Homo sapiens: one gene and its partners. The protein of the gene in region 2 interacts with the protein of the main gene of each other region in a biochemical or structural test. Each region holds a gene or a part of one and is shown on either strand. Other genes may lie near its edges. The genes, in order: BRAP, PHLPP1, USP1 and SUGT1.

Evidence for each region.
Region 1: the proteins of PHLPP1 (region 2) and BRAP form a complex in vitro, tested with the Homo sapiens proteins (one study listed by BioGRID).
Region 3: the proteins of PHLPP1 (region 2) and USP1 form a complex in vitro, tested with the Homo sapiens proteins (one study listed by BioGRID).
Region 4: of the proteins of PHLPP1 (region 2) and SUGT1, one has a biochemical effect on the other in vitro, tested with the Homo sapiens proteins (one study listed by BioGRID).

The regions. Positions count from the first base shown.
Region 1 is NC_000012.12:111,661,936-111,668,972, forward strand, and holds part of BRAP (BRCA1-associated protein), read right to left. Parts: exon of another isoform or gene 7,023-7,037; intron 6,705-7,022; exon of another isoform or gene 6,300-6,704; intron 5,993-6,299; exon of another isoform or gene 5,785-5,992; intron 5,481-5,784; exon of another isoform or gene 4,996-5,480; intron 3,853-4,995; coding exon 3,704-3,852; intron 1-3,703. UniProt on the Homo sapiens protein: Negatively regulates MAP kinase activation by limiting the formation of Raf/MEK complexes probably by inactivation of the KSR1 scaffold protein.
Region 2 is NC_000018.10:62,718,540-62,725,576, reverse strand, and holds part of PHLPP1 (PH domain leucine-rich repeat-containing protein phosphatase 1), read right to left. Parts: intron 1-7,037. UniProt on the Homo sapiens protein: Protein phosphatase involved in regulation of Akt and PKC signaling.
Region 3 is NC_000001.11:62,432,767-62,440,085, forward strand, and holds the start of USP1 (ubiquitin carboxyl-terminal hydrolase 1), read left to right. Parts: upstream 1-4,282; 5' UTR 4,283-4,634; intron 4,635-7,032; 5' UTR 7,033-7,101; coding exon 7,102-7,271; intron 7,272-7,319. UniProt on the Homo sapiens protein: Negative regulator of DNA damage repair which specifically deubiquitinates monoubiquitinated FANCD2. Also involved in PCNA-mediated translesion synthesis (TLS) by deubiquitinating monoubiquitinated PCNA.
Region 4 is NC_000013.11:52,697,827-52,701,437, reverse strand, and holds the end of SUGT1 (protein SGT1 homolog), read right to left. Parts: 3' UTR 529-3,611; downstream 1-528. UniProt on the Homo sapiens protein: May play a role in ubiquitination and subsequent proteasomal degradation of target proteins.

The DNA of each region.
Region 1 (7,037 bases), on a different chromosome or scaffold from region 2:
AGTACTGGGATAACAGGCATGAGCCACCGCACCTGGCTAAACACAAAGGTGTTAATGTACTTATTGAAATGCACATGATATCTCACTGCACCGTGAACATCATGTGGAAGATACCAGTGCTCTATCAGGCATTCATGTCTCAATTTACAAAAAGCCAATAAAAACAATGTTGAAAAAATCCATTAACTGTTTTCTATTATACTCCACACAAAATAATACTAAATACTAGTCATGAGTATTTTTGTTAGATGGGCAACTAGGACAGAAAGTGGGTTATAGCTGAGGCTGACTGAACTGGCACCAGGAAGAAACAATGCTCAAGATATAACTAGTGGCTAGGCGCGGTGGCTCACACCTGTAATCCCAGCACTTTGGGAGACCTAGGCGGGCGGATTACCTAAGGTCGGGAGTTTAAGACCAGCTTGACCAATATGGAGAAACCCTGTCTCTACTAAAAATACAAAATTAGCAGGGCATGGTAGCACATGCCTGTAATCCTAGCTACTTGGGAGGCTGAGGCAGGAGAATCGCTTGAACCCAGGAGGCAGAGGTTGTGGTGAGCTGAGATTGCGCCATTGCACTCCAGCCTGGGCAACAAGAGCGAAACTCCGTCTAAAAAAAAAAGCTATAACTAGTAACAGTTACCCAACTAAGTAAATAAAACCAAGAAAATGGAATAAACAGGAAGAACACTGTGTCACAGATGACACAGCTCTATCTGTGTAAGAGAAAGGAAAGGATCTAGTCCACTTCTTCCTTTAGCATCAAAAGAGAAGACAGAAGACAAACTCAAAGAAAGAACAGAAATGGTAGCCAGAAAGCAGAATGCAGAAAGTAGAAATTGGCTTTGTCTCATCCCTTCGGTCTGTGTGGTGGCTGTGAAAGTGGTTGAATAAGAAAACAGGCCAGGTGCAGTAGCTCACATCTGTAATCCCAGCACTTTGAGAGGCCGAGGCAGGAGGATGGCTTGAAGCCAAGTCTACCCTGGCCAATGTGGCAAAAGCCCTTCTAAAAAAAAAAAAAAACAAAAAACTAAAAACAACAGAATTAGATTTCAGAACTGGTTCTGAAATCTAATTCTCTACACTATGCCCAAATGATCAAAACGATCTTTCTGAAATGTAAATTTGATCTTGAAAAGAAAAAAAAATTACAAGAATAAACTTGTAAACAAACAATTAGCATTCTATGATATACTACCTCATCTGTCTACTAAAAAATAATCAACAGTTTATCGGCCAGGCACAGTGGCTGACGCCCATAATCCCAGCACTCTGGGAGGCTGAGGTGAGTGGATCACCTGAGGTCAGCAGTTCGAGACCAGCTGGGCCAACATGGCAAAACCCCATCTCTACTAAAAATATAAAACTAGCCAGGTGTGGTGGTACATGCCTGTAGTCCCAGCTACTCGGGAGGCTGAGGCACGAGGACTGCTTGAACCCGGGAGGTGGAAGTTGCAGTGAGCCGAGATCACGCTACTGCACTCCAGCCTGGGTGACAGAGTGAGACTCCATCTCAAAAAATAATAATAATAATAATTAACAGTTTATTAAATTCTTCCTGCCTTTCTCTGCAAAAAATTATTTTATCCTATTTTCCTGATGAGATCTTTGGGAGCTCTTCCCAAAGCCTTCTCTGACATCTCTATCAAAAAGACCAACACTGCCTCCTACTGCAGCCCTTCCTGAGTACCCCTGGTTGGGGATGCCATCATTCTCTCTTCCAATCTCCACCCTGAACCACATGTGTTTATGTCCAAGTGTAAACTCTCTTAGACCAAACCACCCCAAAGAGGACCTGAATTTGCTTCCTCTGTCTCAGCATCTCTCACAGTTCTATGCATGTACCAAGGCTCAAAACTCATTAAATGAACTGCATGATTCTGAGGGCAAATGGCATGTCTTACATCCCATATGACAGGTTGAATTCTAGTCCCAGTTCTGGCATTCTCTGGCCATGACACTTTGAGCTTGCAAATTCTTATCTTTGGGCCTGTGTCCTCCTCCTGTATAAAATGAGGTTGTTGGAAAAAATGGTCCCTGAGGAAACTTCCAACTTTAAAATGCTATGGTTCTGTAACAGTTAATTTATATCAAAAGGAATACTGGGGATGGGTATCGTGGCTCATGCCTACAATCCCAGCACTTTGCGAGGCCAAGGCAGGAACACTGCTTCAGCTCAGGAGTTCAAGACCAGCCTAGACAACATAGCGAGACCCCATCTCTACAAAACAAACAAAAAAAACAATTAGCTGGGTGAGATGGTGCACACCTGTAGTCCCAGCTACTTGGGAAGCTGAGGCGAGAGGATCACTTGAGCCCAGGAGTTTGAGGAGGCAGTGAGCTGTGATCATACCACTGCACTCCAACACGGGTGACAGAGCAAGACCCTGTCTCAAAAAAAAAGTAAAACTGGAGTGGCGGGGAACAAAGAATTGCCTAGAACTTAACTGGTATAGCAGATGGACTGAAGATACAGGTAAACACTTTAAGGAATGCACATATCTCAGTATGGCTTTGTTCAAGGCAACTGGACAATTCCTTGGAAAACTCCCAAATGATACCTAAGAATTGACTGAGGACTCCACGGAATTGGAGCAAGACTCCTGTCCAGCTAAATAAGCAGGGCAGTGATAAGCTGCAGAGACCCAGTTTATTTATGTGCTCCTCAGTGTCTACCACTGTGTGCCACGTCCCCCACCAGGTGTGAGAGACACAGCAGTGAGCAAGCCAGGCATGGCCCCCGCTCTGTGAAGCTGATATTCTTCTTCCGGCCACCAGGCCACTTGTGGGTGGACAGAGATTCCTGTAGACTTTCACCCCTCCTCACTTCTGTGCTTGGGAACATGATCTTCCCCTTCCCCCACTGCCTTCTCTGGGTTCTGCTCTTTACCCGGCTTAACTCCTAATTACCCTCCTGGAGATGCCACTTCTCAGGTGGTCCTGGCTTCATTAGGGCCCCAGTTCTCAGTCCCAATGCTGCACACTGCTCTTCTGTAACACTGGTTATGGCTGTGATTTATTTACTTGTGTGATTTCATTTCTGGGTTCCCCTCTGTACTGGGAAATCCAGAAGGCCAGCATCTGATACACCTTTCTGGTTAAGTCCCACAGTGCAGTCTGCAAAGGGAGCAACCATCCTGGATTTAGGGGGTAAAAAAAAGGTACAGGCCTTACCTGTTCTTTGTCTGTAGCAACATCACCTATGACTAAGACCTGGTATGTTGGGAATCAGGAGGCTGTAGAGTAGATCTCATACTTAGTAACTGCTATTTCTACTGGCCACCAAGCCATCAACAGCCCAGCAAAGCTAAAATATTAGGCTGCTGTAGCCCAGTTGATAAGAAGCCCAGAGTGAATGGCAGACACCAAGTGCAGCTGATACATGAGATTCCAGACCTAGATTTCACTGCAGCACGAGAGCCTCAAACTAAGCTTTGCTTTTTTTTTTCACTCTCTGGCTCTTGGAAGGAAAGAACAACTCATGCTGCTTTGGGGAATTCCACAAGGGTTCAGAATCAGCATACTAAAAAAGGACTTGGTCTCAGAATGCCGATTCCCTGAACTTAGGAAAGGGAAGGAGAAAAAGGACCTCTTGAATAAAGTCAAATACTTGGAATGGTTCATTTCTGCTGGTGGCTCTTTTTAATTCTGGAAGGGTTGCAATGGGCTTGTACACAGAGGGGTTCGGCCCCTGCACTCACGTGGTATCGTCCCAGCGCTGTAGACACTGGCTGTGGAAGCTGTGGTTACATAACGTTGTGAGGATGCCATTCACAGACTCGTCCATGCGCTCCAGACACACCGTGCACTTGGGGAGTTCAGTCAGGTCCATCACTGGGAGGCTGGCGCCCTACAGGAAACACCTCACATAAGCCTCACTCTTCATCTACCAGCAATACTTTATTTTTCCTTCTTTTTTCTGAGACAGGGTCTCGCTCTCTGTCACCCACGCTGGAGCCCAGTGGCGCAATCATGGCTCATTACAGCCTTGACCTCCCAGGCTCAAGAGATCTGCCCACCTCAGGCTCCCCAGTAGCTGGGACTACAGGCATGAGCCACTGTGCCAGGCCTTTCTTCTTTTAATAATAGTTTTCTAGTTGCTTTTTTGACTCCTGGCAGGATATCCTCAATATCATTACTCTAAGCAAGTAATTTAAATTGGTAATATTTTCATTCATTTATTCATTCATTCAAGAAACAGGGATGGAGTACCTCCTGTGTTCCAGCACTGTGCCAGGTACTGGGAGTACAGCGGTGAACAAAACAAAGATCTCTGCCCTTACAGAACTGACATTCCAGGAAGGGAGACTGCTGTCAAAACCTTAACATATAAATCTCAAATGTGACCAGACTCCTAGCTCAAGCTCTAAGTGTCTACGACTATAATAGAACACAAAGGAACAAAAGAATAGCTGGACCTGAAGGATTTTTCCATAGAGTAAGTTATAACTTAACACTTTCTACTCAGTGATGACAGCACCAACAACACTGATTTTTCTTTATTCCCTCATTGTACAGATAGAGATTGAGCCCCTGCTATGTGCAGCAGACAGACACTGTTCTAGGTGTGGAACAGTGGTGAGCAAAAACAGATACGTTAAGTCCAAAAAACAGTCAGCTCCTGCCCCCACAGAGTTTAGAATCTAGTGGAGGGAGAGACAAAAATCAAATTAAAAAGCAAACAGTACAGGAAGCCACAACAGGGTGTGAATTAGGGGGCATGACAGTCTAGATGGTCAGGAAAGGCATTCCTAAGACAGTGCTTGACTTGACGCTTCCAGCCAGAAGACGAGAAAGAATTACTTAGGCAAAGGTCAGGGAGCACACACTTATGGACAGAGAAAAAGCACATTAACCTACAGTCCCTGAAGAGTAGATACTTACAGGAAATCTCTCAAGAAGCCACGTTCATTTAAGAAAGGAATCTCTAAAACTGAGGCCTCGTGCAGCAGCCAGCACAAAGGATGCCCAATTTTATCACGTCAATTTTTTTTTGAGTTTGACAAATTTATCGGTATTTTAGTAAAGACATTCATCTCAGTTGTTTCTCTCTCCCAGCTTGACCTTAGGTTAATATTTCATTTGGGTCAAGAAAAGAATATCTAGGAGAGGTATGTTAACAAACAGGAAAATGGACAAAAATTGATAGTTTGCCTACATTAAAGTAAGTTAAATTCATGTATTTTGATATAATTAAATCATGTAAGAACTAAGAGTTCTATATACATTTCCATTGTTTTACTTGGGGCTCATTCTAAACTTAAATGCTAGTGAACAAGTGTTAGGAATATACACAGGATGCTTCTCTGGAGTTATTACCAACTAAAAGAGCTCAGCGAGCAGTTACCACCAATAAAACAGTCTGAAGCTGCCTCCAAATATAATATTGTAGGAGTTTTCAAGGAAATGTTTATACTGTATGCTTCTTTTGTCTGTGACTATGCTTTTAAAGATGTGTTTAACTGTCACATTAAAAAAGATGCCGGGCGGGGTGGCTCACGCCTGTTAAGTCCAGCACTTTGGGAGGCCGAGGCGGGTGGATCACAAGGTCAGGAGTTCAAGATCAGCCTGGCCAAGAGGGTGAAACCCTGTCTCCACTAAAAACACAAAAAATTAGCCGGGTGTGGTCGTGGGTGCCTGTAATCCCAGTTACTTGGGAGGATGAGGCAGAGAATTTCTTGAACCCAGGAGGTAGAGGATGCAGTGAGCTGAGATCACACCACTGCACTCCAGCCTGGGAGACAGAGTGAAACTCCGTCTCAAAAAAAAAAAAAAAAAAAAAAAGCTCATACACAATACAAAAATACAAAAACTAACACCCTACAATATACAAATCTCACAAAGTATATGTGGTGAGATTCCAAAAAAATGTTTGAAGATGCATTTTCTTTCCTTCTACTCCAGTATCTAAAATGTGCTTTTTGAGAGGCCATTGGTCAACATGTATACATTTAAAATCAACCATGTAATTTTACTAGTAAGAAAGCTGGGGCTGGCACGGTGGCTCACACCCGTAATCCCAGCACTTTGGGAGGCCAAGGCAGGCGGATCACGAGGTCAAGAGTTTGAGACCAGCCTGGCCAACGTGGTGAAACCCCATCTCTACTAAGAACACAAAAATTAGCTGGGCATGGTGGTGCATACCTGTAATCCCAGCTACTCAGGAGGCTGAGGCAGGAGAATCACTTGAACCTGGGAGGCATAGGCTGCAGTGAGCCGAGACTGCTCCAATGCACTCCAGCCTGGGCGACAGAGCAAGACTCCGTCTGGGTCGGGGCGGGGTGTGGGGGAAGCCAGTAGTTAAGTTCAATTTAAATTGGATTCACAAGTTAGTAATTTAAATCCTCAGACAAAGTTACAGAAAGTGTATCTTCTTGTTTTCCATCTTCATACAATGTTAATTTTTTTTTTTTTGGTGTTTATACTTTTTAAAAAAATAAAAATAGTCAAATGCTTAATATGTACATTTAATTTTTTGGTGGTGGTTTGTATTTTAAAAGAAACAGCTTCCTTATGATTTGGCTCAAGTTCTGGTGGAAATGCTTACAGCAACTAGCTAATAAACAAAAAACAAGAGAAGCACATTCGAAATACTGATTTACTTTGGTAGCAAATGGTTTTTCTTTGAAGACAAATGAAGATACACAAGACCCATTAAGGTGAAGTGGGCTATTTCAAATATTCAACAGTTTACATTAAAAAGAATTCTTTTTTTTTTTTTTTAATTTGTTTTTTTTGAGACAGAGTCTCGCTCTGTCGCCCAGGCTGGAGTGCAGTGGCACAATCTCGGCTCACTGCAAGCTCCGCCTCCCGGGTTCACGCCATTCTCCTGCCTCAGCCTCCCGAGTAGCTGGGACTACAGGTGCCCACCACAACGCCTAGCTAATTTTTTGTATTTTTAGTAGAGATGGGTTTTCACCATGTTAACCAAGATGGTCTCGATCTCCTGACCTCGTGATCCACCCTCAACCTCCCAAAGTGCTGGGATTACAGGCGTGAGCCACTGCGTCTGGCCAAAAAAAATTCTTTTAAGAG
Region 2 (7,037 bases):
AGACTTCCAAATCAGCACACAACAAAAGCCCAAAGATACTGAACAAGTTGTTTCAATTATGTCACAGAAAGGTAGAACTGCGTACATGTACCTGAAAAATAAGCTAAGTTGCAATTAATTTTGACACATCTTTTTAAAAATAATTCAAAGAAGATAATGTTGAATCTTTTTAATACATACATATTTATTTTTTTATTTATTATTTTTTTTTTTTTTTGAGACTGAGTTTTGCTCTGCCACCCAGACGGGAATGCAGTGGTGCAATGTTGGCTCACTGCAACCTCTGCCTCCCGGGTTCAAGCGATTCTCCTGCCCCAGCCTCTGGAGTAGCTGGAATTACAGGCGTGCGCCACTAGGCCCAGCTAATTTTTTGTATTTTTAGTAGAGACAGGGTTTCACCATGTTAGCCAGGCTGGTCTCGAACTCCTGACCTCAGGTGATCTGCCCGACTCAGCCTCCCAAAGTGCTGGGATTACAGGTGTGAGCCACCGCACACAGCCAACACACACATATTTAAAGGGAAATTTTTTTCAAAATTCATGCTTAAATTTTTCTCCCAAATTATTTTTTTAATTCAATGATTTTTTTCTAACACTTTTATTCTTTTAACAATTTCACCTTCAAAGTACTGAATGAACTAAGAACATTGATTTTCTAACACTGTACCTCTTCTCTGCCAACTGTCAATAGTTCTATCATGCATCCCACAAAGGTAACATCACTGATGAAATCTAATTTCTCTCTCTGCAATTAAAATACCCACCTGTTCCATCAGAAGTTCCTTTCTTACAATCTGTCAAAGTGATATGCAACCCCTCAAAAGCACTGATTAGAATGAAAAGAACTAGGAAAAAACCTTGAATAGAGAAACGACTAACTGTGTAAAGCACACAATTTCTTTAACTTTCATTTTTAATAGTATTAATATAAAGAACCACCAAAGACAGTAAGTATTACACATTCACAGTGTGGGAAAAAAAGAACACTGGACAGATCATCAAAATCCTAGGTGGTGGTCCTAACTCTGTAACTGACTTAACCAATGATTCTGGACCAGATTCTTTACCTCACAGGTTTACTTTTCTCATCTATAAAAATACAGATGTTGGACTAAATTATCTCTACAACATCCTAAATTCTATTACCTGTCCAAAGTAACAGTGCAAAAAATCCATTTTCTTAAAATGTTTTTTCTCCTACTGACTCTAAGCACCGGTAGGCAAGCACACAGCTCACCATAAATAAAGCTAACTAGCCAGCAAATTTTACACATTTGTATCCCTCTAATACAGTTATTAGAGTAAACTTGATGAACTAGACTATGAAGGCATCTTGCTAAGTTAATTTAAGAATTTCACTTTAACTTAAAAGAGGATGTACTTTATACTCATCTCTGGCATGCTGAATTTTACTTCAGGAGTAGGAATGACAGGGAACGGGGTAATCAAACATCGATTCTTGTCCTAATCTACACCAAAGAGGAGGTCTGCTTTGTTTGGTTGGCAACCTCCAGCTGACTTGTGTACATTAGGTCCAAGTCCATAAGAAAAGGCAGGGGATTTGACAGTTTTAAGCCCATAGCCATGTCTTACAGAACTTAAAACAACTACAACTTTCAAAGCCCTTCAAAAAAAACAGGCTCTCTAATGAAGCCTCAGAATGTTACGAGTTGGAAGAGATCTTGGACTCGCTCTACTCCAACCCCATCGTCTTACAAATGAGGAAATCAAAGCCCAGGGTAGGTTAAAATGAATGCCCAAAGTCATGCCAAGTTTCCCAACTCTCAGACTACTTTCTCTAAAAAGCAGTACATTTTCTCTCACAGTGTGAGATAAAAGGAAAAAATTGTTTCCCAAAGTTCTGTTTTTGAAGAGGAGAGTGACTTTGACCCAACCCCCACCCCCAACACACCAGCCAAGCTCTTGCTGTATTTAAAAACATGCCTGGTATTTGAAAAGAAAGCCCAAACACTCTAACACATTATTAACTGAGGCAGGTATATGAAAAGATTCATTCTCCACCTGCTCTTCCTCAGATGTCTGATTCAGAAGAAATAGAGAGCAACAAATACAAATCTCTTCCTGCTTAAACAGAATGTGAGAAAAACCCTTTAAAAAAATTACAACCAATTCAAATTCTCTCTAACTTCACTTTCTAATTAGATTTCACTCATTATTGAAATGGTCCAAAACCAAATATTTCAAATTTCATCAGTCTTCAACTGAATGCTTTCACAAACTAGAAGCAAGGCTAATTTACTTTTAGCCAAGCTCCAGTTAGAAAAAAATATGCCAAAATTCTGGATGTTTTTTGCTTGTGTTTTTCTAAAGTATTGATATCTCCAAAATCATACAATATGTGCAACCTCCAAACAAAGTATTTTATGGAGTTTTCATTATTAACTTCTAGGTCACAAACTCAGAGGCCACTAGGCTTACACCTCCACAAGACACTTTATTGTTAAACACACTTTACGATGTATAAAAATCTCAAATGTAAAAAATACAACAGGGAAAAAAATTACTTCAGTATGCATGTGGCATTACAAAATGGTTATGCCTTGTTTCACCTAACATACCAAAAAGTATATGAGGCCAAGTCATGGTAACACAACAAAACCATTCCAACTCTAAAGTCAAAGAATAACAACACTTCATTAATCCAGTAACTGTTATTATGCTTGATAAAAAGCATAATATCACACATCTTCAAAGAGTTGCTATTTCACAGTTACCTAAATATACTAACATCTTTTAATCAAAGTATCATTAAAGTCTATTCTTCCTAAGTACTTGAGTTTCAATTTATCATAAGTTTCTGGAGTTGAAGTTTCATACAAATCCAGTCAGTCATACAGCCTTAGGTTATAAATATCTAATATATCTAATGAATTCATATGGTGGATTTTGTTTAATTATATTATCTTTAGAAAGCCAAAGGTAAGTATAAAAAAGGGTTTGCCGTAGAATCACAGTGACGTCAGGCCAGATTCAAAACCCCTCATTACCAGTGTTCCACCAGATGCATGTGATTAAAGGGATGGAATGGGTTTAGAAGGTGGAACTTTAAAGAAAAAAAAAGACTTCATTTTCCCAGGCTGTTTTAGACATTTTGATAACATCTCTTTCTCTTTTTCAAAATGTCAGGCGTCTTTAAAGGAATCGTTTTTCTATTGAGCGGCTTCAGGATCTCTGGACTTTCACAGTACAATCAAACCCTTCTCCAGTCCAGATAGACTGAATTATGTTAAACCCTGGCACATAACAAAATCATTAAATCTAAGATGCCTCATTTGACAGATGTCTCATTAAATTCACTGCAAAATTAAGTACGAGATGCCTTTGAAAAGTTGGGAGAAACCTGTTAACTCTAAGAAAACTTTCAGAGAGAGCTATTCTCTCAAAATCCAGAGTTCACTCACGTGAAATAGAAGATATTAATAGTATGTAGCACATCTAAAATCTCCTGCCATGGGAGAAATGCCGCTGTGTGTATGTGTGTTTAACACATCCCTGGGGACCCAAACAGGATGGAAGCTGAAAAATCAGGGCACACACCACCAGCTGCTTAACAAAATTCCACAAATTAAATTCAACAAATGTTAAACTAAAATGCCAAGGACTATACTAGGCTTAGATCACATACAATGTCAGTGAATGTTATGTTACCAGTAAATGAAAAGCTAATTTCAGGATTCTAAGAAGAGAATGAGAAACAACAAAAACATTTTACACTTAAAAAATAACTTATCTTTGTATATATCAATCATTTAAGGTGGGTGATTTGATAATCTTATAGCAACCAAAAGATAAAACTTTCAACCTAAAACTTTACACAAATTCATTTACACTCATCTCCTGCCCCTACAATTACTTCAATGAGTACAAAAGACACACGAATTTAGGAATAACTATGAAATTCAAGGAGAAGAACTTACTATCTCTAGCACTATATAACATGAATTATAAAAATTATACAAGAGCACAATAACATCAAGAAAGCATCATTAAAAGACAACTCGATTTTTTAATAATAAGTTTAAGCAAATAAGATATTTAATGAGAAATATTTTCAGTTACTTTAAAAGCCATGTTTTAAAGCAACTGAACTGTCACACATACACACACACACACACACACACACACACCCACACCCCTCAAAAGTTACCCACTTTTCAGGCAAAGTGTTAATTCTCTACTTCCCAATGAAGATTTACAGTTTAACAAATAGGTATGCTTGAATAAGAGAATAAAGAACTATTACGTAAACTTTAATTCATATCAACTTAAATCCAAGCATGACTATTTGCAACCAGGATATTTAGAACACTTCAGTACTCTTTCCATACTGTCTCCTTATTTGTCCGTCTTGGTTCTTTACATTTTTAAAGGCACCATGATAAACAGAACCATCCACATTTCACAAGAAATACCACTTTGAACTAGAGGATAATACCACCTCATTACCAACAAAAACAGCATATTTTTGGAATGCTTTTAACCAAGGGAAAAATTCAAGTGTAAATTTAATTTAGCATCGATTCATGGAAAGTGATACGAATTGCAAAATAAAATACCCAAGCTCTCTATTCTCCGCCCTCCCGAGGACGGAAATACGACGAGTCAGATCTCTCTGTGCATCAGTTTCTCCATCTGAAAAGAGGATTGCCACTGACTCCTCCTTAACACTGTTTTTGAAAGGGCGAATGAAATAATTTATGTAAAAACCCTTCAAGATGTTTGAAGATAATAAAAACCAATGTATTGTAGATGTTATCACGCCATAGTAGTGAAGGGTGGCATGTACTTTACAACAAAAACAAACAAATATAAAATATAAATATAAAAATGTAAAATACTAAAAAAAAAATTTAAAGCCTCTGTACTGAAAATTAAAGGGACTGTTCAAGCACACACTGGTGTCACACGTTCGAACCGCGTTACTCAATACTGCTGTAATTATAGTAATAAGAACCTGCTTGTCAATATTATAGCTTAATGCTGAACCACCTCTCCCCTCTTGGTTTGCATGTAGGAAACCACATTAAGGTTTGATCATTCCCAGAAGAGAAAATAAATAAAATATGACAGGGATAAAAAGATTGTTCCCGCGAAATCCCAAGGAGTCACACACAAAAATACCTTGTCCGAGATTCACTAGGTACAGTGAATGTGCACTTTATTCTGTCAACACCCTTTGTCATTACTAAAATTCGAACAGAAATTGCTAGACTACTCAGATCTAAGTGCTGGGAGAAAAGAGTCAAAAAATATAAAAAGATATAGTTTAATGCTGCCCTACATCAATGACAAAGGCTCCCCAGAGAGTCTAAAACAAAAGCTCATTCATGTTTAGGAGTCCATAACTTATGTCGAGCAACCTTAAGTTCTTGAATTTTTTAACCTATAATTACTCTCTTTCAGGCAAAATTTAAGATGTCCGATTTTAAAAGGATATTAAATACTTAAGTAACTTCAGATAAAGCTAATTAAATTTTCCCATATCTTAAGTCAGCTAAGAGAATGGTGGCCTGGTAGATGCTATAACAATTTTCAAACCAAGTTTTCATTAACAACTCTGTAATTAGATAGTACCTTTATCCAGGGCCTTCTCGCTCATTAAAGACTTTCATTTTACTTTACCCAGATAAATATTTAAATATTCAAAGCAACCACAAATGGCTTTCAAAGCCTCTAAAAAACAACCCTAGTCAGGTTATAAATACTAAAATTGAACAGAAAGGTGATCTTCAAGAGAGCAGACCCTCAAGACAGTAGATAAGCTCAATTTAAATGCAGAAAAATATTCAAAAGAATTTGAAAGCAACTTCCTAGCTATCCTTAACCCCAACTATACGTAAACAAAACAACATGCAGCAATAAATTTAAAAATAAGTTATGTATAAAATTACCAATGGGGTACAGAATTTTCAAAAACCCTGTAAAAGATGTCATCTAAAACAAACATTAATTATCCTCTTCCTACAGAAAAAAACTACTACCAAAATGTAACTCTGTCCTGTTGAGGTGTCCTATATTCTGTTGGAACACAGAGATCATTTCTAGGAATCACTTCCAGCCTGGTGCAAACCTTCACTATATGTGGAGTCCTGACAACGTTTCCATAAATGAGACTACGCTTTTGTTCATCAATAACTGAACTTCTTTGCAAAAATTCAAGTGGATTCACCATACACTAAATTTTGTTCTACTGCAAATGAATAACAGCAGAGATGTCTGGTATATTAACTTAGGCTTAAAATAAGCTCAACTTTGCTTTAAAGCCAAAATAAGCAATTAGACAACTTCGCAACAATCAGGCATTTTTCTTCTAGGACACCTGTACACTGGCTTCATGTTCAAGAATAGGGTGGATACTTTGTGTGGCACCCCCACACATCTGAGTATATGTAAGCACATACTCAGAGGCATACATGCATTTATGCTGTACATATAGAAACAAGGCAGTAAGTGCAGAATGAGGTAACAATTACTGCTTTTCATAAAGAACAAAACAAAAAGATTAAAAGATCATGCCAAACATTTTAAGATTTAACCAGGAAAGACTTTTTTAATATTGAGATGAGGTTTTGAGAAAAAAGAAAGTGCTTATTACCCATTAGAATATTTTAGACACTCTTGAAGAGAATCAAAGGGAAACACAGATTCAAACTTTGTTAACTGTGACACCCAAAACCTTTCCGTGGACACTTATCACAATGGATATATCCAATCATAAGCAAACTCTTTCCATATAAAATTTGTTCAAACTCTAATACATCCCTTGTTTTTATATACAGTTCCTTCCATGTAGTTAAAGGGCACCTATTTTTAATGCTTTTGTAAAATAACAATATTTTACAAATTACATGAATTAAAGGAGAAAAGAATACAGTTGTTGATCTTACATAAAAAATCATCTATTTCCTGGACCATAAACTTTAAAAGCCATGTCATCGAGTTGACAAATTGTCTTCAGATACTGCAAATGCTACTGTATTACGATTTGGTTTTCTTTACAAGTAAAAGATTCATCAG
Region 3 (7,319 bases), on a different chromosome or scaffold from region 2:
TCAGGCCAGAAGTAACCAATTTGCATGTAGAAATGGAAAAGAATACAGTTTTGCTAAAGGAGAAATTCTGCTGTAATCCAAGTGGATTAAAAGTCTCATAATTTGGGCGGGACGTGGTGGTTCATGCCTGTAATCTCAGCACTTTGGGAGGCCGAGGCGGATCACGAGGTCAGGAGTTCGAGACTAGCCTGGCCAACACTGTGAAACCCCGTCTCTATTAAAAATACAAAAATTAGCTGGGCGTCGTGGCAGGCACCAGTAATCCCAGCTACTTGGGAGGCTGAGGCAGGAGAATTGCTTGAACCCAGGAGGTGGAGGTTGCAGTGAGCCAAGATCATGCCATTGCACTCCAGCCTGGGGGACAGAGCAAGACTCCATCTCAAAAAAATAAAAATAAAAGTTTCATAATTTGAAGATTTAAAGGGCGGAAAAAAACCACACTTCTTCTATACCTTTAGACTGAAGTACAGTTGGCCCTCCACATTCATGGGTTCCATATACATGGATTCAACCAACCACAGATCAAAAAATCTTATGAAAAAGGTACACAAAGTTCCAAAAAGCAAAACTTGAATTTGCCACGTGCCAAGTGTTAAATACTATGTTAAATCCATGTGAATGATGTGTAGGCATTGTATTAGGTAATTAAGTAATCTAGAGATGATTTAAAGTATAGGTGGGATGTGCATAAGTTGTATGCAAATACTATGCCATTTTATATATGGGACTTGAGCATCCTCGGATTTTGATATCCATAACGGTCCTGGAACCAATCCCCCATGGATACCAAGGGATGACTGTACACAGAAACAGTGCCTGTGAAACTTTGGAAGGAAATATGCCTGGCATTTACCCACACAAGACTGACAAATATAGGATTGAGAATGCTGTGAACCTATTAAATCCCATTGTTTCCAAAGGGATTAGCTGTCATTAAGAGTGGGGTAACTGGGGAGCACACAGAAACTGGGAAAAAAGTTTCGGGGCTTAAAAACTCATCTAGGCAAGAACTGTGGCTAGAATTTCTCCCACAAACAACTGACTGAAAGCAAAAGAATGAGAAGCATATTAAATTTTTACATTAATCATATTGCCAGAGACACACCAAACTTCTGCTATTGCTGTTGACAAGCACAGTTGTGGAGGTGTTTGATTTTTCTGAAGCAGCATTAGCAGAAACCTCAGTGTCTAGCCACTTGTCCTGTGGGCCTTGACAGACGGGACGTAGGATATGCATGGCACTGGTGCAGATCATAGTGGGTATAGTGTGGTTCTAGGGTCAGCGGTGCACGCAGCTTTCTGATGGTGGTTTCCTAGGCATGGCAGCAGCAGTGTGATTCAGAGACGTCATTTCCTGATCATAGAAGAGTCATTGCTTCCTTGGTGGCCTGGTTCTGGGAAGACTTTGGGACTCATTCCTGAAAAACTAATCTAGAGCCTATTTAATCAACCCTCCCAAGTATTCAATATCTTTGTGTTTATACTAGCTAAAATGGATTCTATTTTCCGCAAATGAATCTTAACTGATACCACACATTGTGTACAGGAAGAATAGTGGCTGCAGACAATAGGATCTCAGGAATATGGGAAAGTAGAATTGCTTATCTGTTCTCGTAGAGTTTGAAAGTAGCAATAATTATGCTAGTACTAGAAAATGAGACACTGCCACTCTGTGGTGCACAATGGCTAAGACTGACCTATATACATTTTCTAATCTTGTCCTTGTGTATTTCGTGATCTGCTGGTTCAACATCTGTTTGTACGTTAAACACCTCAATCTTAATATTCTAAGAACGATGATCCTTCCCATTGAGCCTACTAAGACCCCCATTTTAGCAAGGACCAACACTGAGTTGCTCAGGTTAAAAAAAAAATCGTTACTCTTTGTTTTTTTTTCTTTTTTCGGGTGGGAGGGTGGAGGGCAGGGCCTCACACTGTTGCCCAGGCTGGAGTGCAGTGGTGCATCTCGGCTCACTGCAGCCAGGGGATCCTCCTCCCTCATCCTCCCGAGTGGCTGGGACTACAGGCACGTGCCACCACGCACGGCCAATTTTTGGAGTTTTTTGTAGCGATGGGTCTTGCCATGTTGCCCAGGCTGATCTTGAACTCCTGGGTTCAAGCGGTCCACCGGCCCTGGCTACCCGACCTGTTTTTTCTTACATTATCATACAGCCAATCCATCAGTAGAGCTCGTTGGCTGTGCTCAAAATATATCTTGAACCCTACCAGTTTTCAACATCCCACCATCTTATTCCAGACTACCATAATTTATTCCTTGGCTTATTGAACCAGCATCTTGGCTGACCTTTCCGCTGGTACTTTTCTTTTTTTGAGACAGAGTTTTGCTCTGGTTGCCCAGGCTGGAGTGCAGTGAGGCGATCTCGGCTCACCGCAACCTCCGCCTCCTGGGTTCAAGCGATTCTCCTGCCTCAGCCTCCGGAGTAGCTGGGATTACAGGCCTGCGCCACCACGCCCGGCTAATTTTGTATTTTTAGTAGGGACGGGGTTTCTCCATGTTGGTCAGGCTGGTCTCGAATTCCCGACCTCAAGAGATCAGCCCGCCTTGGCCTCCCAACGTGCTGGGATTACAAGCGTGAGCCACCACGCCCGACCCTGCTTGTACTCTTGAAGGTCAACGTGTAATCCCGCCACTCCCCAGCTCAGAATCATCTAACGACTCCCATCTCCTTACTCGGCTTACCCAGGGTCCTGCCTTTCTCACTCATCTCATCTCCTCCCATCTTATTTCCCAAATTGACTGCGCTCTAAGCGCCCTGGCCTCCTTGCTTCTTTTCAAAACACCAACCACATTAAGCTTCAGGACGTTTGTAACTTGCTGTTCTCTCTGCCCGCACCATTCTTCCCTCAGATTCCTCCAAGCTTTTTCATTCAGCTCTGCTCAAATGTCAACTCAAAGAGGTCTTTCCAGGCTATCGTATCTATCACTTATCTTAGCGTCACTTGTATCTCCCTCTCCAGAATGTAATGCTCCTTTATGACAGGGAATGCCTTTACATCCCTCGCGCCTTGAAAAATGCCTGGCACATAGTAGGCACCTTAAAAATACTTGATTAAATGGATTTGGGCTGAACGTATCCTGCTTAACTGCAGCACTTGAGCTGAGGTCACCTCACCAAAGCAGGCACACAAACACAAAAGGAAGCACACAACCAGATGAGGCCTGCCTGCCGCTCCTGAACCCTTTGGGAGGGCTCGCGCGGGAACCCTGGGAAGCTCCCGCGGCCGGAGCTGGGCCTGAAACTGTTCTTTCGTTTCCTCCTGCGGCCGAGAAAGGGAAGAGGTAAACAGGCGAAAATGAGGCGAGCAGGGGCTGAGGACCGGGCCTCAGCTCTACAGCATTCGCCTGAGCATGTATTGTTATCCGTGGCAGCGCCTTGTCTCATTGGATGGCCCTAGGCCTAGTGTGGCCGCGACTCCGAACTGAAAGCCCAAGCGCGGCGGCGTCCAGCCGGGCAGCCATTTTCCGAAGCTGCTCTCTTGGTAACCCCGCCCGGGCGCGTACGCACGAACGGAGGCGGGGCTTACCGCGAGGGCCTCGCTCCGGAAGCCGCACCCTCCGCGGCGTCCCACCGTCGAGGATTAACAAAACGCCAAACAAGATTTTAACAGTCGGCAGCGAAAGCGCGCACTCGAGCGCCAATGAGAGCGGAAGGAGGGGCACCGCGCCTGAGGAACACTCCGTATGTCGAACAATGATTGGCTGGAGCCCACCTTTCTTCTTTTTTGCTATTAGATGGGCTTGCTGCTCCCGCCCATCTAATTGGCTTTGGTCTAGGTACTTCTGATTGGCTTCCCCCGGGCGGTGGGAGGCGCGGTTTTGGGGATTGTTCATCATGGATTGGTGAATTTGGGCTCCTTCTCGAGGTGGTGGCCCATCCCGTCTGCTCTCTGTCCCGTCTCCCGACCCGTACGCTTTTCCCTCAACTCGCGCGCACGAATGGTTAAAAAAAGGGTGTGAGGCTCGAGCCCGCCAGCCAGGCCGCTAGCACCTCGCGCGCGCCCTCAGCGAGGACCCGCACGAGCTGCCCGGCTCTGTGCCTGCGTTGTTTGAAACTGTGGAACCCGTTAGGCTTTTGGGGAACTACAGTCCCAGCTGGCTCCGGAGCCCGTGCGTGCCAGGGGCGAGTGGCCGTCGCGAGACGGCTCCTGCCTTTCGTGTCTCTGCAGCGTGGAGACTGGAACCGGCAATTTCAAAGGACGCCACGTTCAATCGCAGCGCTGGCGCGGGCGGAGGCTAAAACACGGGGGTCCTGAGACTGAGGAAAACGCGCCAAGTTCCCCTCGGTGGCGGAGTGCTAAAGACCCTAGCGGTTCAGGCGTTCGGCGAGCGGGGCCGCTGCTTGTTGCGCTCCTGGCTCTCCCGGGGCGGGCGCAGATGGGCGCCGCTCCCGGGATGTAGTTGGTGTTGGTGCAAGACGGGAGCGAGCGGCGGTCGGGGTTCCCGCTCTTGGGAGCGGATGGTCACTCCCCCGCGGGGAGGGCGAGCCGACCAGATTTTCCTGGGGCCGGGGACCCGGCGGGCTCGGGGCAGGGACTCACCTGTCGCACCCACACTCATTCGGGTTGGACTTGCCGGCGTCACCGCCGCGGACTTCGCTTTGGGCCATGACCAGGTAAGGAGGGCCTGGGAGGAGGGGCCGGCTCCCGGGCGCGGGGGCAAGTTCGGCCGGCGCGGGAGAGGAGCTGCCGGGGAGACCCCGGGACCGTGTTGGCCTCGCACCCTGGTCGACCTGCCAGGGGGAGCCGTGTGTGCCTCGGGCGTGGCGCCTGTCTTGCCGCCGCCGGGACGCGAGAAGGCAGGTGCGGGCTGGGCGTAAATAGGCCAACTCCGCGGCGAGGGCGCCCGGCGCGGGGGTGTGGGCCGAGGACGCCGCCGCCAGCCTCCCCCGACCGGGCAGCCTGGTCGCTGCTCGTCCTTCCAGCTTTCTTTCCGTTCCCGAGAGCGGTGAAGGATGGGGAGAAAGAAACGTTTCCACGCAGGTTGCCCTGTGTCGGTAATTGCGAAATTTTACCGCGCATTTTCTTTCACTTACACTTTTTCAAGAAGTGTTTAGAACGCCGCGTGTCTTAAACCTTGGCGAAGATGTCCTTGTAGATTTTTGTTGAAAAATCGGAATCGAGTCGTGTCATCTTATAAAGAATTTAAAACTATTGGGACTGAGTGTTCACGCTGTCAACAGATAATGGTCGATTCGTCGTGCTTTCTGCGAAAGTTGATTTAGTTACAGGAGAAATATTTTGGATGTAACAGCCCCCCAGTTACAAGGAAAGCCAGGAGCAAGAAATAGCAAGGAAGATACTGCACCTGGCAAAATGTTACATTCTCGGTGTGAGCTTTGCTTTGAGGGGCTAGGAGGTTTGGTTTTTTGATTAAGCTGACGATCCGCTATTTCACCTGCCTAATCATTCTTCCCTTCTGTGTAGTCTGGTTACTCTGTCGGTTTGAGATCCAGTTTCTGTCATCCATTAAATTGGCTCTCGAGAAAAACCTTTTATCAGAATCATTAATGCTTGGCGATCCCTGAGAACTTAGCGCAGGTTGGTTTATCATTCAGAAGACAGCGCTTCCTCAGAAGCATTAGGTAGACAGGAGAGTAAGTGAAGTTGGAGACAGAATGGAGAGATGGATCAGCTTTCCAGTGCTTCCTGATTTGGGTCTCAGAAATGGTTTCAGTGTGCTGAGTTCAGTATGAATTCCTAGATCAGTGTCAGCCATGTGAAATGCTTATTAAGGATGAAATTTGAGTGAGTCTTGTGTAGTTCATTTTATTACTCTGCATTTTAAATTTGAAACTCGTTGCTGAAGTTTTGGGCTTTAAGTAATTTTATGGTAATACTCTAGTCAGATAATTTTTCCTCCCATGTCCTGAAAAATAGGCCTGATGTAGAAAATATTAACTCCTACACTCCTACAAATGTTGCCATTTTTTTTCACGTGCAAGTTTTACTTTAAAACAGGGTGGGAAAGTTGCAAATGGCAAACCAAATCATCTTTTTTTCCTACTCAAAGCACTATTTTTAAAATCCAAAGTTTTTTAAAAAGTTTGGAAAACGAGTATTGTGGTTTCTAGTGCATTAAGAATTGGATTTACACAAAGTGCATCGAACAGTTTTTTTTATCACGGTCTCAACTTTGCTTGTGTTTTATCTTTCACTTACGGTTTTAGGTATAACTTAACACCATCTCTATGCCTTGAATGCAAATTATTCTTTAATAAGCTTTTTAGGTACTTTATTTTCATATATCCATGTTAATAACTAGAAAAGGCATTGGAAGAGAGGACTCATCGTCCAGCACTACTTTGATTTTCCATTCATCCTTTCCTACCTTGTACTTGAGAATTAGAGGTGGTAGTGCTCAGTCAATATTTTCTGAATGAATCATTATAATGAAATATTAAGTTGTTTTTTTTTTGAGACTAAGTCTTGCTCTATGGCCCAGGCTGGAGTGCAATGGCACGATCTCGGCTCACTGCAGCCTCCGCCTCCCGGATTCAAGGGATTCTCCTGTCTCAGCCTCCTGAGTAGCTGGGATTACAGGCGCCCGCCAGCACGCCCGGCTAATTTTTGTATTTTTAGTAGAGATGGGGTTTCACCATGTTGGTCAGGCTGGTCTCGAACTCCTGACCTCGTGATCCACTCGCTTCGGCCTCCCAAAGTGCTGGGATTACAGGCGTGAGCTATCGCTTCCGGCCCTTGAAATAATAAGTTTTTACTACTTATACTATTTTACTGTAGGTCTACTAAATAGGATATTTTGTAATGCGACCCTTAATCCATAGCAGGCTGATTTTAAAAATTCAGTAGCTTCTGTTTTTTGTTCTTTAAGAACAGTGTGGTATGCTTCTTCATTTAAGCAATAAATATTGAGTGCTTATTGGCAGGCATTAGGTTTTCAAATGTTAATTTCTAATTTGTACCATTCCCTTGGTAAATTTGTTTTCAAAATTGATGATTTTGTTGCCAAAACTGATAACCAAAAACTAATGAAACTTTCTCTGTGATTAACAGATATAATTGGTGATTACAACTTTCCTCTATAAATTAACTCTTGACACTCCTTGGGATTTGAAGAAAAAAATGCCTGGTGTCATACCTAGTGAAAGTAATGGACTTTCAAGAGGTAGCCCTTCAAAGAAAAACAGACTTTCCTTAAAGTTTTTTCAGAAAAAGGAAACTAAGAGAGCTTTGGATTTCACAGATTCTCAAGAAAATGAAGAAAAAGCTTCTGAATATAGAGCATCTGAAATGTATGTATCTTACATTTCTGTACTTTAAAAATTCTACAGTAAAGCAGC
Region 4 (3,611 bases), on a different chromosome or scaffold from region 2:
AATGACAAAGGAGACTTAAATTGTATTCAAGGATGAAAATAAGGGTCTACTTTGAAAGAGAAGTGGACAGATGAGCATTCAATAAAGGAAGAGAGGGCAACAGGGAAGAATTACAAATTTCTTCACAACTTGGTACTACTAATTTCTCAAATTACTTTTAACCAGGCCAGTCTAAAAGTTGCAAATACAGCCCAGTTTGCTGTGCTGAATCTTGACTGAAATGTTAGTATGTGTGTATAGACTTATGTGTATTATTGGTACTTCATTAGATACTCATTTAATTCTCAGTAGTGGTACAAACCAATCCTGATGGAACATCTCAAGTTAGATTTCAAGGTCCTAGTTTGACTCGGAATGGAAGGAAATATGTGACAGCTGCCATTTAGTCAGCACATGGAAAATGTTTTCATTTTCTGGCTGCAAAAACTTGTGTGTTTTTACACCTCCCCTTCCACCAGCACCTCAAATAACTGTGACACTAAAAAAGTAGATATAATACTAAGAATAACCACTTAACCCACTCAACAGTTTCTTACATCAGATTTTATTATACTGAAATACAAGCTACATTTTTACAAAATAGAAATTCTTTGTGAGTGGATTGACTTAATTTTATTTCTGTATAAGCTAAATATGTTGATCTGTTTTATGAACATGTATTTTATAAAAATGGTCACAATATATTTTTTAAGTTAACTGATTTATTGAGGGAGGAGGAGAGAGTTGACCAAAGTCTACATGCATAGACAGTCCTAAAAGCGTATCTCAAACATGAAGATGTAAATTTGAGAGTTAATGATACAAATTTCAGCAAAAACATTTTACAGGCAGAGAGTGTTTTGGTGTTTATAAAAGCTGAACTCCTTTTGAAGGGCTTTTGTACAAATACACATGCTCATATACTATATGCATATATAGGTGTACTTCATTTTGAGAAAGTCCAGTATAATACTAGCATCAAATTTACAAAACAGGTTTAGTGTTGACTGACTGAAGAACTCACTACAGGTTTTACTTCAACTGCTTACATTCAAAAGTATTCAATTTACAAATTTTAGGTACTTACTGTGTAAGGTAAGTACATCTATACATAAATACTTTTATGCAGGTATAATATAAACATAGCAAATAGCTGAGGCTATTTTCTAAGGTGTTTGGCTTAGTGAACCTTTTTTACATCTTTATAGTTTTAAAGTCAAATACATAGCAGTCTTTATTTGGGTGTATGTTATCACAGAGGAATAAAAATCAGTAATGGGACTGGGAACAGTATACCCACTAAGTTAAATTAAGTCATTGGTTAAAACACCAAATTATTCAAAACCATTTAAGAGATATGCCCCACTAAATTCCCTCTGAATTTAGTCATTTACAGATGTTGTGTTTCGTATTCCTGTTCTCACCTTTGTGCCTGCTCCTTTGCAAACATTCTTTTCACACCAAATTCTTAGAACTGAATCAGAACTGCAGAAAATCCAACACCTTTTCTCTCCTCTGCACATGGCTACAAAAATTCTAATAGTAACAAGATAGTGTGAAAGACATACCTCTATATACTTTTTACTAGCATTGCATTTGCAAACTTACTTGAAATTACTTTTTTAAAAAAACAGGATTTCTATGGCGTCCTGTCCTTCAGGGTTCCTTCTAAGGTATGAATTGCTAAGAATTTTCTTTTCAGCTGCCTATATTTCATCAGCCTTGATAATTAATCATCTTTTATACTAAATTTGCCATATACTGACAAAGTCAAAGACCTGTAATAAACTAGACAAGCAAAAACTTTCTCTTAGCGGGACTAATGCTGTTAAAGGCAAATGGTTTCCTTTCCATTAAAACCATATTCCTGCCTGTTAAGTTACTGAGGTAACTCCAAAAAATTAAGCAGTAAAAAAGATCTCCATGGGATGTGCCCTAACACAAATTCTACTCGGCCTACTCAACCAGCACCGTAATTTTTAACATTCACTTAGCACCTATGGGTAATTAAACAGGCATCATCGGAGAATATTCCAGTTGCTAAATGGTACCCCATTATTAATTAGTACTATGCCATGGCTCTCTCTGAGTATTTCTCTGCTCAGTTCTAGTAATATCTTAGCAGTGATAAAAGTGTTTTGCCCAAATAGTTATTCTCATTTTGTTTCACTTTGATTGAAACAAACATTTGATTTTCTTTCATCATGTGCTGTCATACGGTGATATGGATTCAATAACTTAATCATAATGACCCCCCAAGATTAAGAAGAAAAAAAGCATCATTCAGCATCTCTCCTCTACCTTTTAATTTCTGTGTTAAGAGGGAAACAAAACCTTCAAAGGAGCAAGCCAAGTAGCTTTTCCTCTTCTCTAAACTTTACTGGAAATAAGGCATTAGAGGTGATTAGTGCTAATCTCACTTCTGTTCTCTCCTTTACTCCTTGACATCACTGTGTTCTACATGCAGTCCTCCAGGTCACCTGCTTCAAAACCATCAGTTCATTCAAAACAAAGATTTACTGGACCCTCTCTCAAAGGTACTGATTCAAAATCTCAGGAGGAAAGTAATGAAGGTCTACATTTTTAAAAATAAGCTTCCCAAGTGAAGGTTACTCACCAATAAGCTTAAGAACCACTACCCTATATATCATACAAAATAGCTGCCCAATGTTATAATTTTAGTTGTCCGATATCAGAATGTCAGCAGAGGATTAGGGCAAATCAGCTAAGCATGGTGGCTCACGCCTGTAATCCCAGCACTTTGGGAAGCCAAGGCAAGAGGATTACTTGAGGCCAGGAGTTAAGAGAGCAGCCCGGGCAACACAGCAAGACCCTGTCTCTACAAAAAAAATTTAAAAATTAGCTTAGTGCACTAGTAGTGCAGTCCCAGCTACCTGAGAGGCTGAGGCAGGAGGATCACTTGACTCCAGGAGTTGGAGGTTACAGTGAGCTATTGTGTGCCTGGACAGCAGAGCAAAACCCTGTCTCTTAAAAAAAAAAAAAAAAAAAAGATTAGGATAAATAAGTTTTAAGAGAGAGTCTATCACCAACGATCTGAGTGAGTTACATTAAAAACCTGTATGAAGAAAAAAGTATATGAGATGACAGCACTCTGGAAAAAGTGCATCTGTAAAACCAAACGTTTGGACTACATAGTATTTAAGATCCATTCCAGCTCCAAAATCCTGACTTCGTTTTTGTCTCCTCATACTGACAGTGGATGAAATGCAAATACATGTTTGCATTCCAGGGAATAAGAGGTTCCAAAGCTACCTCTAGTCTTGTCAGATGGCCCATAAAAACATGCTCTGTTGATCTGATTTTAACAACTCTAAAATAAAATCCTATGCTACACATATTCCTAAGTCCCTGTTCACAACCGGTCATTCTCCAATCTTGCCTTGGTACTTATTCTGCTGTAACTGTACTTATATTCCAGAACAAGAAATAGCTTTGCTAAACAAAGATTAGACTAACATATGCTATTACCTATAGTTTAATGTGTTAAGGAATAAACGGCAGACATAAGTTGAGTATTCAGGCTGAGGGCTTCTTTCCACCACCACAAGCTAAGCTCCATGAAGGCAGGGAATTTTGTTTACCTAGTACCTAGCACCTAGCTCAGTGTCTGA